2 separate regions of the Homo sapiens genome follow, and region 2 is linked to region 1. Evidence: fine-mapped expression QTL. A gene starts in region 1. The other region holds a variant in brackets. All regions are shown on one strand. Distances are between the middles of the regions.

Region 1 (8,340 bases):
ACGAATGTGCCCACGGCATCCTTTTGCCCACCATTCCGTGGGATCGGTCACTATAAGTATCCAACCACCTAGGGGCGCTTGCCTGTTGGCATTTACCCTGTGTCCCTCACTCATCTGACCCTGGGGCTGCCTTCCTGTAGCAATGCTCTATTTCCCATCAGGTGGAGAGAGCTGGTTTCTGCATACTTCCATCTCCATCTTCTGCTGCAGCAGAACCCAGCTCAGTATCTTCAAGGCACAGAGAAGGCCACCTCTTCTAGCCCCTGGTCACCACTTAAAGTGGCACTGCCCATCTTGGGAAGCCTTTGCTGGGGATGCCTCTTTTTATGACGCCTCTCATAAGAGGGGAGGGGCTTCCTATGGCACCTCTGGAAGAGGGGAAAGGCTGAGGATTTGGGATTTTTAAAAATTTTTAATTGTAAAAGTTCATGCTTCTTGAAAGTAGAATCAGACAAGAGGGAAATGTGTAAAATAAAATGTGAAAATCTCCTTACCTAGCCGTCTCCTCTTCACACAAAAACACTGTTAAATGTCTCGTGCGCTTTCTTCCAGACCTTTCTCTAAACAGAGGAAGGGTCGTGAGGGCAGAAGGGGAGGAGGGATTGTTGCTCTTGTTCACAAACCTACTATTCTCTAACTATTGTTTACAGATATATCCCCATGTCAGTGCATAGAGATTTTTCTTGATGAAAGTATATATATATGCATATTTGAATTACAATATACTTGAATTATATATATTTGGATTATATTTATATATGTGTGTGAGCATAAAAATCTATATATAGATAGAGATATAGATAGATAGATAGATAGATATAGATAGATAGATAGATTTTAAATCATTATAGCCCTAAAGCCCTAAAAAACTTTCTGGTATATGAATATCATAATAGCAGACATTTTGAAAAATTCTTTGCAGACATAAACAATGGAAAGGTATAAAAATTAATGGAGAAATCCAAAGAGCCCGGTTTTTTCAATACAACAAATATAACCATAAAAATGATCTGGCCAGGTGTGTTGGCTCATGCCTGTAATCCCAGCACTTTGGGAAGCTGAAGTGGCTCGATCACCTGAGGTCAGGAGTTCAAGACCAGCCTGGCCAACATGGCAAAACGCCATCTCTACTAAAAATACAAAAATTAGCAGGGTGTCATGGCAAGCACCTGTAATCCCAGCTACTCAGGAGGCTGAGGCAGGAGAATCGCTTGAACCTGGCAGGCAGAGGTTGCAGTGAGCCGAGATTGCACCACTGCACTCTAGCCTGGGAAACACAGTGAGATTCTGTCTCAATTGAAAAAAAAAAAAAAAAAAAAAGATCTCCAGGCAGTATGAAATATTTCGCTTACAAAATACATTTTTTAAATCTGTGGCTGTCAGAATGCTTCTCTTCCCCTTCTTCTCTCACCGTAAACCAAGAGTCCAGCACTAACAGTCAGACTTTTGCCACCAAGACAAATGCAGAGAAGGGGTCCCCAGAAGGGAGGTTTGCTAAGGTTGAGGGAAGGGTCACCCAGTGAGATGCCCACAGTAGCCTGAGGTCCTTTTAGACCTCCACAACAGACATGGAGATATTTAGGGAGTTGTTTAGGGTTGAAGGGGGAAGATAGACAATGCTGCCCAGGAATGAATTAAAGACTCCTACCTCCAGAAAGGAGGTATCCTTATTATGACAATTAGCTGTCAATACTTTGCTCCGCACCCACACCCCTCAAGGGAATCCTGCCTTTTAGCAAGACTGACCCAAGTACAGAGCTGGCCATCCAGTAGCCTATTATCAAGTAACCTTCCATCTAAGTAGCCTATTATTAGCAAGGAAACATGGCCAAATGGAATTTTTTTTTTTTTTTTTTTTTTGGAGACAGAGTCTTTCTCCGTCACCCAGGCTGGAGTGCAGTGGCACAATCTCAGCTCACCGCTACCTCCACCTCCCAAGCTTAAGCGATTTTCATGCCCCAGCCTCCAAATAGCTAGGATTACAGGTATGCACCACCATGCCTGGCTAATTTTTTCTATTTTTAGTAGAGACAGGGTTTCACCATGTTAGGCAGGCTGGTCTCGAACTCCTGGCCTCAAGTTGATCCACCTGCCTCAGCCTCCCAATGTGCTGGGATCACAGGTGAGAGCCACCGCACCTGGCCCCAAGTGGAAATTAAAACAGCACTGTATTAGCAGTGAAGCCAGGCTCAATAATCTCCCAGGCTGCTGTCCCACCCATTGCCCCTCTGCAGGCACTCACCTTTCCAAGTCACTTTGATGGCTTCTTTCTGCGAGTTTCTACAACCTTCAGATCCAGCTTTCTCCAGCCACAGGAGTGTCCTCAACCTGTGCACAGGGCGGGCTAGAAGGACCAGGGGGTGACCCCCTACAGAAGCAGCCTGCAACCAATCATGAATGAGCATTAGTGCCAGATGCTTCAGCTTTGCATCCATCAGGCATGAGGTGCATCTACATGCCCTGGCAGAAGTCCCGATGGGAGGGAGCACCAGTGCTCTCTGACATAGCCTGCTGTGGGCACACCTGAATTGGCTTTCTCCCCTTTCCTGCCCATTCTCACTTCCTCCACCCCTCCTGGTGCTTCCCAGATCCCCCTCCAAAATGAACCCCTTGCACTTGAATCCTTATCTCCTCATGGGGGGACAAACTTAAGACACCAGGCCTTGAAGTCTTTCCTCCTATTTGCTTTTCATCCTTTTGCAAATTTATACAGGTCAGAGAAGCAAGTATTCATCCAGGGAAGCTTATCATTTTCGGAAGTGTTTAGAAATGATAAAAAATGAATCAAAATAAATAGGAGTAAATTTTATTTTTTAAAAAGCACCTAATGATAAATATGATCCATTTAATCTTAGGAGACAAATTAATAACAAAACTTTTCTTTATAATTAAGTGATGAGGCCTTCAACGGACACACTATCAAGAAGCTCAGGATGTCCTTTTTGAGGCCTCCTCCTGCTCTCCAAACTCTTCATGATTGTGCAAAAACGCCGAGCAGAGAGAGAAATGGAAATTGTGACCAGTCTCCTAAGACGTCCCAGGTTGGGTTTGCTATTGGTCTCATTAGTGCCACTGAAACTAGGTTTTTAAATCTTGTCTGCCTTGATGGAAGCATCCATGCCCTTGGTGACTCAGTTCCCAGCATCGACTTCAGGCTCAGCTTTGGGACCCATGTACCCAACCATGAGGGGCCACTCAGGTGTTGCGGGAAGAGTCACAAGCATCATCCAAGAAGACTGTCTGCAGTTGCCCAGGCCAAGGTGAAACTGGAAGCATCTTTTGATAAATATACAATGTACCATCTCACTCAGTCCCTGCTAGATAGGCCAACGAATGCTTTGAAAAACTCCTGGAAGGATAAACATCAAAATGTTTATGTTGTTGTGTCTGCATTGTGAAATTGGGGTTAATTTTTATTTTTTCTTTCTGTTTCTATATTTTCTGAATATCTTCTGTGAAAATGTATTACTTTTGCCACCATATTTTTTCAATGCTATCAATTTTTTTTAAAGAAATTGCCACTGGTGTTCACTCAGTCATTTAACAAATATGTGCCAGGCATATCCTAGGCACTAAGAATGCATAAATGAACACATAAAACACCTCCTTTCATGGGTGTTACACACTAGTGAGGGAAACAGATGTTACATAAGTCAGCAAATATGTACAGAATATAAAGTCAGGTCTCGGTGAATGTTGGAGGAACAGCAAAGCAGGACGAGCCATAGGTGACCCAGGTAGATCATGTGCAAATGGAACCTATCTCAGTTCAAGCTGCTATTACAAAGTAAAACAGATGGGTGGATTATAAACAGTAGAAACTTATATCTCACAATTCTGGGGGCTGGAAGTCTAAGGTCAGTCTAAGGTACAGGCATGGTCAGGTTCCATGAGGGTTCTCTCCCTAGTTTCCAGATGGCTGACTTCTTATATCCTCACTTGGTGGAAAGAGGGCGAGAGAGGGATCTCTCCAGGATCTCTTTTATGAGGGCACTAATCCCGTTTATGAGGGCTCCACTGTCATGACCTAATCACCTCCCAAAGGCCCCACATCACAATACCATTATATTGAGGGTTAGGATTTCAACATATGAGTTTGCGTGGGAGCAGGAGGAAGAGTATACATTCAGTCCATAAATGAGAAACCATCCAGAAATTATCCATTACAAAGGAGTTACTGTATCCTTCATTTTTTGCATGAAAATTATACAAACTGTTGGAAAACAATTCATCTTTATCTTGCATTTCAGATTAAAATTGTACTATTTACCTTCTATATAAAATGATCTAAAACAAGATCAATTTATCTGTTAGAAGTAACTTTAAAAGTTTTTTTAAACTAAATTCAGGTTTTATATGTGTCATCTTTCCCAGTTCTGTTGATTTTTCCCTCTTTACTCACTCTCTGGACTTCTACTTTTCAAAACCACCTACAAATGCCCCTCCACTGTATAGCAACAGGCTCCACAATCAGTGCAAAATGCCATGATCACCGTGACTTGCCCAGCCACCCACCTTCATTCTTCACAGCCTAAGAGTCAAGGAAGTGATGAGTCACCCTTCATCATGAATGCCTCGGCTAGGTAGGCCCGCACAGGCTTCAGTGTTTAGGACCCAGAGTTATCCCTTTACAGCATGTTGAGGAAGAGTTGCTGAAGTTCATCTGCCTTTTGCAGCCTGCACACCACTGTTGAATGTTATTTCATGAAAGAAGGATACCCAAAACTCACCAAGCCATAAGAATTCACAACCGCATTTACCCCCATCCTTTGGAAACGGCGGGATCAATTATTTTCTTTCTAAGTCCTCTTGGCCATTTCCAAATGAATGTAGGGTGTCCCAGGGGTTCCCTTGTGGGCCCATTCAGTGTGGCCAAGAGCCCCACAGTCCGCACGTACACAACAGTTCTCAGTGATGCTGCAGAGCAGGACAAAGAAGGACAGAGCTAGGTAAGAAGCCAAAGAGAAAAGGCTGCCAACTGGAGAGGCTCTTAAAGAGACACCATAGGAGATTTTAAAAATTACTGTATATAAAAGAGTTCAGGTGGTGGAACTGGAATAGTTGCTATAAAACAGTTGTTCTAAAACTCTCAAAGAAAACACTGCTAGAATTTAACAGAAAGCTTCTGCGTTCTGCAGTTGAAAACTCTAACTGTGGCACGGGTGAAATCACTCTCATTTGGCCTGGAGAAGTGGGTGTGGAAAATGGCACCCCGAGGCAATCAAAGAGACAGACTTGTGTTTCCTCTGCTGAGTCAAAGAAAAGCTGAGCACTGAGGATGGCCAGGCTTCACATAGCCAAAGCCCAGAGCCAGGAGGATAAAAGACTTTTGAGCAAACACATGCCACCAAGTCCATGCACTGAATCTGGACCCATTTATTCTTGAGTGCCCTACTTATTTTTTTAATTCTTAATAAGATTGATTATCTGGTGTTTTGACCCATATAGTAGATTACAAGAGGCGAATAAGAAAATGGGTCGGGGGTCGGGCACGGGGGCTCACACCTGTAATCCCAGGGCTCTGGGAGGCTGAGGTGGGTGGATCACGAGGTCAGGAGTTCAAGACCAGCCTGACCAACATGGTGAAACCCCATCTCTACTAAAAATACAAAAAATTAGCCAGGCATGGTGGTGCATGCCTGTAATCCCAGGTACTCGGGAGGCTGAGGCAAGAGAATTGCTTGAACCTGGGAGGCAGAGGTTGCAGTGAGCCGAGATTGCACCATTGCACTCCAGCCCAGGCAACAAGAGTGAAACTCCGTCTCAAAAAAAAAAAAAAAAGGAAAGAAAGAAAATGGGTCAGGGATGCTGTTGGGTCAGAAGCAGGAACACTGATTTTTAAAAAGACTACACGTACAATAAAAGTGACAGGTATGTGTAAGAGAAAAGATTAACAATTTTACAACAGCCAACAAGAACCTCCCAAGCAAAACAGAGCAAGTTTTTTGTTTTTTGTTTTTTGGGTTTTTTTTTTTGAGGCGGAGTCTCGCTCTGTCGCCCAGGCTGGAGTGCAATGGCGCTATCTCGGCTCACTGCAAGCTCTGCCTCCCGGGTTCACGCCATTCTCCTGCCTCAGCCTCCCGAGTAGCTGGGACTACAGGCGCCCGCCACCATGCCCAGCTAATTTTGTGTGTGTGTGTGTGTGTGTGTGTGTGTGTGTGTATTTTTAGTAGAGACGGGGTTTCACCGTGTTAGCCAGGATGGTCTTGATCTCCTGACCTCGTAATCCACCCGCCTCAGCCTCCCAAAGTGCTGGGATTACAGGCGTGAGACACCGTGCCCGGCCAAAACAGTGCAAGTTTACTAGAAGCAAAATAGCCTAATTCCTTCACCCACTTCTAAGATACCACAGAAACCGATATTCATAATGAAGGCTTCGGAGAGTCAATAGTAAAGGCACTTGCATTGGGTATTCTCAGGGAATGAAGTGGTGGGGGTGTGTTTTAGACAAATTCCCATCAAAAATGGTCAAGTGGAGAGAGTTAACTCCAAAGGGCCACAAAGGAATTTTGGGGTTGATGGAGATGATTTATATAATGATTGGGAAGTGGTTGCACAGATGTATATATTTGTCAATTCTCCAAACTCTATACTAATGGAGGTGTGTCTTATTGCATGCCAATTACTTCAATGAAATTGATTTAAAAGTAAAAATAAGGTTCAAGTTAAAATTTGGCACTTACAAGGCAGAAGTCAGCTAGCTGAGACTCCACTAATACACACAATGGCCTAGTTCCTTGGTGATAAGGCCGTTAGATTAATTCAGGAGCACACATTATGCCTGCACTGTGCTGAGTCCTGAGAATACGAACATCTTGGAAATAGCATCTCTCTCTTGGAAAGGCCCATAGTTTGATGAATTTAGTGGCTAAAAGATGCACTAATTTTCTTAAAACCTCAACACACATTAGAATGGGGTGTTGAAAAAGTTAGGGTCCAGAGAGCCCCTCTGACATGGGTATATTGTTCCTTGCCTCTTCTCTCAGGTTTTGCTGACCTACACAATTTTCTGCATTTGGAATAAAGCCCACTTTTTCCAGCATCATTTTAAAGAGGAACCATTACCACCCTCGACTGAGAACAATCCCAAGGGAGTTGGCAGAGTGGATTTTCCTCTTGATTTCTGAGCAATAAACGGGACTTGACACAAGCTGTCAGAATCTAGTAGCTCTAAAACTACCTACTGGGTGAGGGAGGAGACACAGCACTGAAACATTAGGCTGCAATCCCCCTGACCCAGGACAAAGGGTCCCAACACTCAGTCATCTGGGACTGTCTGAAAACCTATCAAAGGTTACTAATATAAAAATAGAAACAGATTAGATGGCTGAAGAGTGTCTTAGCCATAACCAGGCTTGCAGCAAGGTTTTATACATATTTGTTGAAAGAATGAGTAAAATACCAAGCTTTTGTTCTTATGACTGCTTTATAATACAGTGGGGCTGTAAGGCTAAGACTGGCAAAAAGGAAGAGGTGAAGCAATTCAATCCCTAAATTTAGCTGAGTGCTGTTACACCTGCACCTTGCGCTTCCTCTCTGCCCAATCCCCACCCCTCAGCCTAATCCCCGCCCCCTCAGCCTAATCTCCCCACCCTCAGCCTAATCCCCACCCTCACCCCATTCCCCTCCCGCTCAGCCTAATCCCCACCCCTCAGCTTAATCCCCACCCCCTCTGCCCAACCTAGTACCCCTCAGCCTAATCCCCACCCCCTCAGCCTAATCCCACCTCCTCAACCTCATCCTGATTCCAAAAGGTTTACAGGCTCAATCAGAGGATGCCTGGAAGTTTTTGTGTGTCTTGGGAGCTGTAGCCCCAAGTGTAACCCCTTCCCAGTGCTTCCCTTGGCCTGTTATGTACTGGCAGCATGTCAGTCATCACCCCAGAAGGAAACAGCATCTAACTCAGATTGTAATTCTCTTAAGGGGAGGGATGACACACAGAACTGTGGGCACATTTAAGGGAAACAGTGAAGGATGGTGAGGCGCCCAGAGACTAGCAACATGGGAGGCCATTGCAATCCCCTGGCCTAGGGTCACCAGATGCAAATAAAAATGCAGAACACCAGTTAAATTTGAATTTCAGATAAACAGCAAATAATTTTTTAGTACAAGTATGTCCCAAATATTGCACTTATATTTACTTATACTAAAAATATTACTAGTTGCTTAACTGAAATTTAAATTTAACTGGATGTCCTATATTTTATCGGGTAGCCATACCCAGGCCTGAGGCAACTTGGTGTTACTGGAGCCCAGTGAGAGTTGGAGCCGAGGAGGATGTCAGGGAGGCCCAGCAGGAACGGTGTTCACTGAGGTGTACAGACCAGAAACAGAGCCCAC
Region 2 (8,340 bases), 60 kb before region 1:
GAGCATATCATTTGGGACCTCAGTTTTCTTAAGTGTGAAATAGGGGTGAAAATACCTATTCCAAAGGTGATTTTGATGTTGAAATATTAAATGGGGACAGTCTTTCACTAAATGCTTCGAAGTTATGGCCCTTATTTTTATTGCATTAACTGGCTCTGGAGCATACAATTTTGAACTTGGTTGTTTTCTCTGCTGTTTCTTCACCATCCCCAGTCCCACCGGCTAGGGAGCTGGAATTCCTGGTGTTCTCACACCACTGTGTACAGCTGTGCAGTGCACAACCTCCATGGCAGTTCTACATTTCATCTCAAACCTGGATCTGGGTCTTATTCAGCCCTTCTCCCTGCTCCATGTCCTGTGCCCTCAGGAGAGTAACCATGATCCTCCAGGAACCCCTGGAACTCCCCAGCACACGGTGTGGGCTCCTCACCTATGGGTTCCCCACCTTCCACGCAGGGAGCTCAGAAAAGCCTCAGCCCTGGACTGTGGGTGTGGGAGGGGGCAAGCTGGGGTCCAGGGAGCTTTGGCCCCTGCTGAGTCTGAGTCATTCTCCCTTTCCCTCAATGAAGGAAATGTAAACATGTAAGAAAGAAAGGAACTCAACACCACCCGTGCTATTTGTCAAAACGGACAATGCTACTGTCTATGCAGTAGAAGGTTATTGAATCGGGGGTCCAGGAGGCCTGAATCTTTGCTTTGGCTTAGCTTGGGCCAACACCATAACCTGGAGAAGGCACACAGAAGTACACCTCGCCTTCCTGTCCTCATCTGTGAGATTAACTTACCTCTGCATCCTGTGGAGTATTAGTGTGCCAGGGTACCATTCAGGCCTTCCACAGAGTGTTACTGTGGTATTCCATGGAAAAGAATGTTGTGAGATGGGAGATGTAATTATTCCACATCAAACAGAATAAAACATCTTTCTTCACAGACAGATTTTTCAGAGGGAGGAAGGTTTATCATTGCCCAAACTTACTTTGCCACATTACCCTTTAAATTTTTTTAATGGAACATCTGTTAACATCTTGAAGATGTCCACTGAGGATAGCTTGGGCAATGATGAATTACACCTCTTTATAGTCCCTCTTGGTTTAAAATTACAGTGTCTCCTCAATATCAGAGAAATAACTTCGAAAAGAAAAACTAAAATATGAGTTGGCCTGAGTAATCATTGTATCAATAAGAGTAACTGGTGAAACCTTCTTCTAACCTGTTGAATTAGCATGTGTTTATCATTCGTTGGGTCAAATTAACCTTTTCATGTATAATTTTGTTAAGATATAGTAATTTTTACATTTATACAGCATTTTAGACATGTAACATCATTAAACTGATGACAGGCAAATTAGAAGAAAATCAGACAAGACATTAAATTTGTTAAATAATTAAAGAAGTACCCTATGGTTATATTTTATTCAAAAGTTAATTTCTGATTTGTTATATTTTTTGAAGGTTCTAAGCTAGTGAAAGAGAGTTTGTTACTTGACAGTAGTGAATTACAAATAAAAAATTTCTAGATTACAGATGAAGACTCAAGCCATGCTAGATTACTACAATTCTAAGACAAGCTTTAGTTAAAACAGGGTTCCATCATCATGAATACCTACCTGGGGCCGGGCGCAGTGGCTCACGCCTGTAATCCCAGAACTTTGGGAGGCCGAGGCCGGTGGATCATGAGGTCAGGAGATGGAGACCATCCTGGCTAACGTGGTGAAACCCCATCTCTACTAAATATACAAAAAATTAGCCGGGCTTGGTGGCGGGTGCCTGTAGTCCCAGCTACTCCGGAGGCTGAGGCAGGAGAATGCCGTGAACCCGGGAGGCAGAGCTTGCAGTGAGCCGAGATGGTGCCACTGCACTCCAGCCTGGGTGACAGAGCCAGACTCCGTCTCAAAAAAAAAAAAAAAAAAAAAAAGAATACCTACCCGGGTCGGGCGCAATGGCTCATGCCTGTAATCCCAGCACTTTGGGAGGCCGAGGCAGGCAGATCACCTGAGGTCAGGAGTTCGAGACCAGCCTGGCCAACATAGTGAAACCCCGTCTCTACTCAAAATACAAAAATTAGCCATGTGTGGTGCTACGCGCCTGGTAATCCCAGCTACTTGGGAGGCTGAAGCAGGAGAATCGCTTGAACTTGGGAGGCAGAGGTTGCAGTGAGCCAAGATCACGCCACTGCACTCCAGCCTGGCCAACAGAGTGAGACCTGTCTCAAAAGAAAGAAAGAAAGAAAAAAAAGAATACCTACCTAATAACCCTACACTTGGATGCAGTAGGACACTTCTAACAAAGTATATTCAAATTTCAATTCCAGTTTTCACTCAGTCAACTCTTCCTGCTCCTCTAGCCTCTCTCAGGGAATGGTAGGTACCCAGCGTCCTGAGGCCCAGACCCAGGGAGGAGCCCAGACTCTTCCCCACCTCTCCACACCCACCAAGAAAACACAAAGCCTGGAAATTCTTTTTACCCCCTCTCCAGTCAACCCACCTGTCTCCATCATCGCTGCTGTTTTCCCTGTTCCAGGCACCATAATCTTTACCCTGAAATACAGCTACTTCAGTGATGGCTGCACCTCCAGCATCTAATCCATTTGCCATACTGCATCTAATCCATTTGCCATACTGCAGCCAGGAAGATCTTTCCTACGAGATGATGCAGTCATTTACCTTCCTGTCTAAAAGCCCTTCGTGGCTCCCCGCTGCCCTGAGGATGAAGTCCAAACTCCTCAGCATAACATAAAAGGTCTTTTTTGTCTCCTACTTACAATTGCTGGCTTAAAAAACGAATGCATCGGCCAGGCGTGGTGGCTCATGCAACATAATCCCAGCACTTTGGCAGGCCGAGGCAGGAGGATTACATGAGGTCAGGAGTTCAAGACTGGCTTGACCAGCATAGTGAAACCCCATCTCTACTAAAAATACAAAATTAGCCAGGTGTGGTGGGGGGCACCTGTAATCCCAGCTACTCGGGAGGCTGAGACAGGAGAATCGCTTGAAACCAAGAGGCAGAGGTTACAGTGAGCTGAGATCGCGCCCTTGCACTCCAGCCTGGGCAACAAGCACGAAACTCCGTCTCAAAAAAAAAAAAAAAAAAGAATGCATTACACATACATATTTATTATATAGTATATTCATTCTACAAATAAATATATAATGTATAGGCACACACATTTCCACATACAATTAAGTACAAAGAAAATATTACAGACCCCAATGTATAATGATTTGGATTTCACAAACATTACCATTCTGCCATATTTATTTATATAATTTTAGATACTGTTTTAAAGAAATGAAATATTATAGATACAGCTAAACGTTCTACACCCCAGCCACAAATCCCACCTTCCAGGCCAGACATTGCCAGAGGGAATCTACCTTTACTCTTTTCCATCAGCAAAGTTAATTACCCCAGCATCCTTTGGTGAACAGTTCATCCCTTCCTCACAAATCTGGAGTGCCTTCTCTGTCCTGTATCAGCTGTTTCTCAATGCTTAATTCTATAATTCTGTTCCATTGGTCTCTCTCTTTCAAGACAAGCTTTTCTTTATTATTCTTAAAAGATGACTTGCCTATTTTTGGCTCTTTATTTCAGTTAGATGTTTGTTATTTTTAACAGAACCTGGATACTAATTTAATGGCTTTGCACGTTATGGGTATATTCAGGCTTTCTCTTATTTTCTTGAGGAAATAACTATAGTTATTTTTATTCAAATATGTTCATTTGTCTATGGGTTCATATTTATTAACACCATTTACATTGTTTTATTAACCTCTGTAAGTTTTTCTAGTTGATTCATTTATGCTTTTATCTTTATTATTGCTTTTTATTTACTTTTAGAGAGCTTGTGCTTTTATTGTTTTTCCAACTTCTTTTTGTTTTTTGTTTATGAATACTATTTTTATTGATACATAACAGTCGTGCATATTTTAGGGGTACATATGATATTTTGATACATGTGTACAATGTTTAATGATCAAATCAGGTAATTGAGACATCAATAACCTCAAACATTTATATTTATTGTTTCTTTGTGTTGCGA[A/G]CTTTCCAATTCTGCTCTTCTAGCTATTTTGAAATATATTATTAAGTATTATCTCCCTACTGTACCATCAAATACTAGAACTTATTCCTTATATCTAACTGTATTTTAGTATGCATTAACCAACTTCTTTTCATCCCCTTCTTAGCCTCTATTAATCACTATTGCTTTTTCAACTTCTTGGGACAAATGCTTAATTGGTTAATTTTTAGTCTTTTTTTTTTTTTTTTTTTTTTTTTGAGATGGAGTCTTGCTCTGTCGCCCAGGCTGGAGTGCAGTAGCACCATCTTGGCTCACTGCAAGCCCCGCCTCCTGGGTTCACGCCATTCTCCTGCCTCAGCCTCCCGAGTAGCTGGGACTGCAGGTGCCCGCCACCACGCCCAGCTAATTTTTTGTATTTTAAGTAGAGATGGGGTTTCACTGTGTTAACCAGGATGGTCTCGATCTCCTGACCTCGTGATCCACCTGCCTCGGCCTCCCAAAGTGCTGAGATTACAAGCGTGAGCCACTGCACCTGGCCTGTTTTTCTTAATATAAGCATTGACAGTATTTAGGGTAATAAATGTCCCTATAAATATCAGTTTAACTGTACAAGTTGTGGTATGAACTGTCTGCAATTTCTATTGTTCTTAATATTTTGTAACTATCAATTTGAATTATTTTTAACCCATCAATTATTTAGAAGTATTTTTAACTTAATAGTGAATAGAATTTCTTAAAATTATCTTTTAGTCATTAATTTATAATCTTACTTCATCTTTGTTAGAAGACATAGTTTGGGTTATATTGTTTTCTTGATACTTATTTAGACTTTGTAATCAAGTATATGGACAATGTTTATAAGTGTTCTTTACTTAAAATATGAAGATGCTTTTTTATTGGAAATGGATTCTTTTATATTGGGTGGACATTCTAAATATGTTCATCATATTAAGCTTTATGAATGCGTTATGTAAAACATTTATATCCTTAGAAAATATTTATCTCCATTTTTCAGTAACTCATAGAGATGTGTTCAAAATTCCACTATAATGTTGGATTCACTTCGTATTCAGGAAATTTTTGCGTTACACATTTTTCGGCTGTCTGATTCAAGACTGTTAGAACTTCCAAGTGACTTGTGTTTATCTGTAAGAAAAGATTCCCCTTATCTCTAATACAGTTGATTTTGTCTGATATTAAGGTCACTATATCAGCTTTCTTTTCTTTTTTGCCCACTGTATCTTTTTTCATGCCACTACTTTCAACTTTTCTGTATCATATTTTAGATGGATCTCTTAAAAATAACATATAATTTAGTATTTTTTTATTTGATTGTTTTATTCCAGTGTGAGAATCTTTGTCATTTGACAAAACAGTGTAATACGTTTACACTTAGAACTACTGGCATATCTGAACACTTTTCTACCTTCTAATTTTTTAATTATCATTCTCCATTTATTTTCCTCCTTTCTTGCTTTTTATTGAATTATGTGGGAATTTTCTTCTCTTCCTTCGATTTGTTCAAAAGTTGTACATTCTTTCCCTATTTCTCAGTTCATTATCCTTATATTTTTAGCAAACATATTCAACATAGTTTTATCAACCTCTCTGCCTTCTTCAAACAATGAAAGGATCTTAGATCTTCCTTTTAATCTTCTTCAGGTGGTTTTTTTGCTATGTTTCTAATTGTCTGGGTGTTAGTTCTCCTATCTGCTGCCTTAATAATTCTCATTCATGGTTTTTTGCTTCTTTGCCTGTATCGTAATTTTCTTATGAGTTCTTCCTTGATGAACCCGCTTTATTGAGGGTTTCTTGAATAGTCTGAGTGATCCTAAGAATAGTGTTCTATTGGTTTCTCCCAGGAGCACAGTGAATTCTGGACCACTTTATGTCAATTTCTCAGTTTGGGATTATCACACCATGCATATAAATTCAGAATTTATACCCATGTTTAGTGCAGACTTGACATTTTGATTTTTCAGAGGACATTGTCTAATTTTTAAAGATTTACTTGGAGCCTGAGACAGACCCTGTGCTTTCTTACAATGTCTCCAAGCCCGGAGACAAATTTTTCTTTTTGTTATTATTATTCTAAACTTGGAGGCCATTTGAGGATCCTGGCTATGTAGAAGGGAGCTCAATTACAGCCACCCACTTCATGCAATGCCAAAGATACACCTCCTTTCCTCCAGTTCCATTAGGGCAACAAAACCTTAGTCCCAGCTCACAGCTGCATTCCCAGGTCTGATGGCCCCAGCCTTCAGCAAGGCTGCCAGAGGCTACTGAGGGTGAGAGGGGTACTATGACTAGGTATCTATTATTATTGGCATCAAGGGACTTCCATCTACTTCTGCTATTAAACTGTATGTGTAGATTCTACTAAGAATTTCTATGTTGTTTAAAAAGGGAGGAAAATCCATATTAGTATACCATAACATAAAAATCAGATTCTGAGTGCATTATTCTGCTTTTCTTGTTTCCTTCTAATCTTTCCTCCCTTTCCACTCCTGACCCAAACTATTTTATGTTCATTCTCTCAACTCCCAGGTCTCCCCTTAGAAGCCAGGTAGAGTAACAGCTCTATGAAGTTTGAGAAAACCTGCCCACTTACTGACTCCTTGTGGTTGTGGTTGAGCCATGTAGCTCTGAGTAGAAAGAAGGAGGAAAAAAAAGATTCAGGCAAAAACGGGGATAGGAAAGAACAAGTCATCAAAGAAACTTACAGATATCATCAAATGTATTTTTCGTGAGTCCTCAGTTACTCAGTAGAGTAAATCTCTCAATAATGTTTCAGAATCAAATAAGGCAACATCTTTGGAATGATCCTGTCAAATTGATGAAAAACCAAACCAACTTATATATGAAAATCAGCTTTGCTTTCTTTCTATTTGAAGGGGGAAAAAAAATCCTTGGACTAAGAATATCCCTCACCAAGAGAAAAGAAGCAGAAAGCACTGATAATTAGGTGCAAAGAACATTCCCCCAAATGTTCTTAAATTTCATAGCCAGATACTTTTCTAAATTTTTTATCACATTTTCTAGGGAAGCATTTTCTGACATTTCCTCCTGTTGAGACAGTTTCCTTTCAGTGATTCTTTCTGCATAACTTTAAGAGGCAGTCTCCAACAGGTTCCCGCTGCATGTGGCTTTCCTTCTTGGGATAATTTGCCAATGGCAATTGCATTCCTTATGCACTCAGTGACCTACCAGTCTGCCCTGGGTCCCACGGACTAAATTCTCAAACTCTCCCCTGAGGATCAGTTTTCTTTCATTTTTAATTTTTAAATCTCTTCATCCAGCTGTATTACTTTTGACCATCAGGTCTAGGTGAGATTGACAGATGCTGACAGTGGTTACAGCTGCTGCTAGCCACTGGTTACCTTAGAAATGGAGGTAAAACAAACACAGGAATTCCAAGGAACCATACCTCACCTCTAGGTTTCTGAAAACATTGTAGAGTAAATAAATCACAACCCTTTATCTATCAGACTGATTCTGTGGCTGAATTTACAAGAAGAAGCAGAGGAAAGAGAGACGGTAGCAGGGGAGGAACAAAAGTCAATTGTTACCAATAGTTCGGAGACAGAAAGCTCTGAGCTTCCATTAAGCAGTTTGATTTATAGCTTCGGATATTATGTGCAAGAGCGCCCACAACCCAAAGTGTTTTGTGTCTTGACCTGCAAAAAATAAGTCTATTAACCCTAATCAATCTCCTATTATGCAGAGGTGCCTGAAATTTAGCAAGCAAAAGGGTGACTCAGGTCTTGCAGCCCAGGAACTAACCATTGTCTTTGGTAATCTGCAGTAGCTGGGGTCTTTGCAGAAGCAAAATTATCATTCAGAGTAAGGTGCTTGGGGGGGTGTGGTTTCATCTTTTAATGAGAAAATGGAGGATTGTTTTCATTTTTAATTGCTGGGGCTAATTAAGGCCTAGGGCTCTTGTGTGAACCTGGACCCTTGCGGATGCGTGTTCACAGACACCTCTGCCTGTGCTTCACCCCAGCTGTGGGTAACCCGCCTGCCCTGACTTCCTGCTGTAATTAGTAAGGGCTTCTATTCCGATTAAGTACTTCATTACAGAAGCTAATTATGAAGTCTAGCTGGTTCGCTGTGCCTTAGGAGGGATTTCCTTGTGCTTTGTGAGGGGAATTCTAAGGGTGGGTGTTATTTTAACCTTTGAAGGGCAAAATAGAAATTGGCACATCACACGGATGGTCAAATGTTAATATGGGCATGGAAAATGGAAATATTTAAATCCACACCAGGAAAACCAAGCAAACAAAGCTTCTTTTTAACTAAGATTTGGAGAGGGGGTTAGAGAG

What was found. PIP is the estimated chance that this variant, and not a neighbour inherited with it, causes the effect.
Region 2: its variant is the best candidate, but not a certain one, in a credible set for the expression of CDRT8 in atrial appendage (GTEx, PIP 0.86).

Annotation. Positions count from the first base shown.
Region 1 is chr17:15,102,195-15,110,534 of GRCh38, forward strand. It overlaps CDRT8 (CMT1A duplicated region transcript 8), which reads right to left and starts at 3,993. Exons shown (of 2, transcript NR_103559.1): 1 at 3,834-3,993; 2 at 2,791-3,349. RefSeq lists an enhancer at 3,776-4,975.
Region 2 is chr17:15,041,944-15,050,283 of GRCh38, forward strand. All of the region lies in intron 1 of LOC101928475 (a long non-coding RNA gene), which reads left to right. Among named protein-coding and RNA genes, the nearest start is that of CDRT7, 15 kb to the left of the region's middle. The variant A/G (reference allele first, on the strand shown) is at 4,040.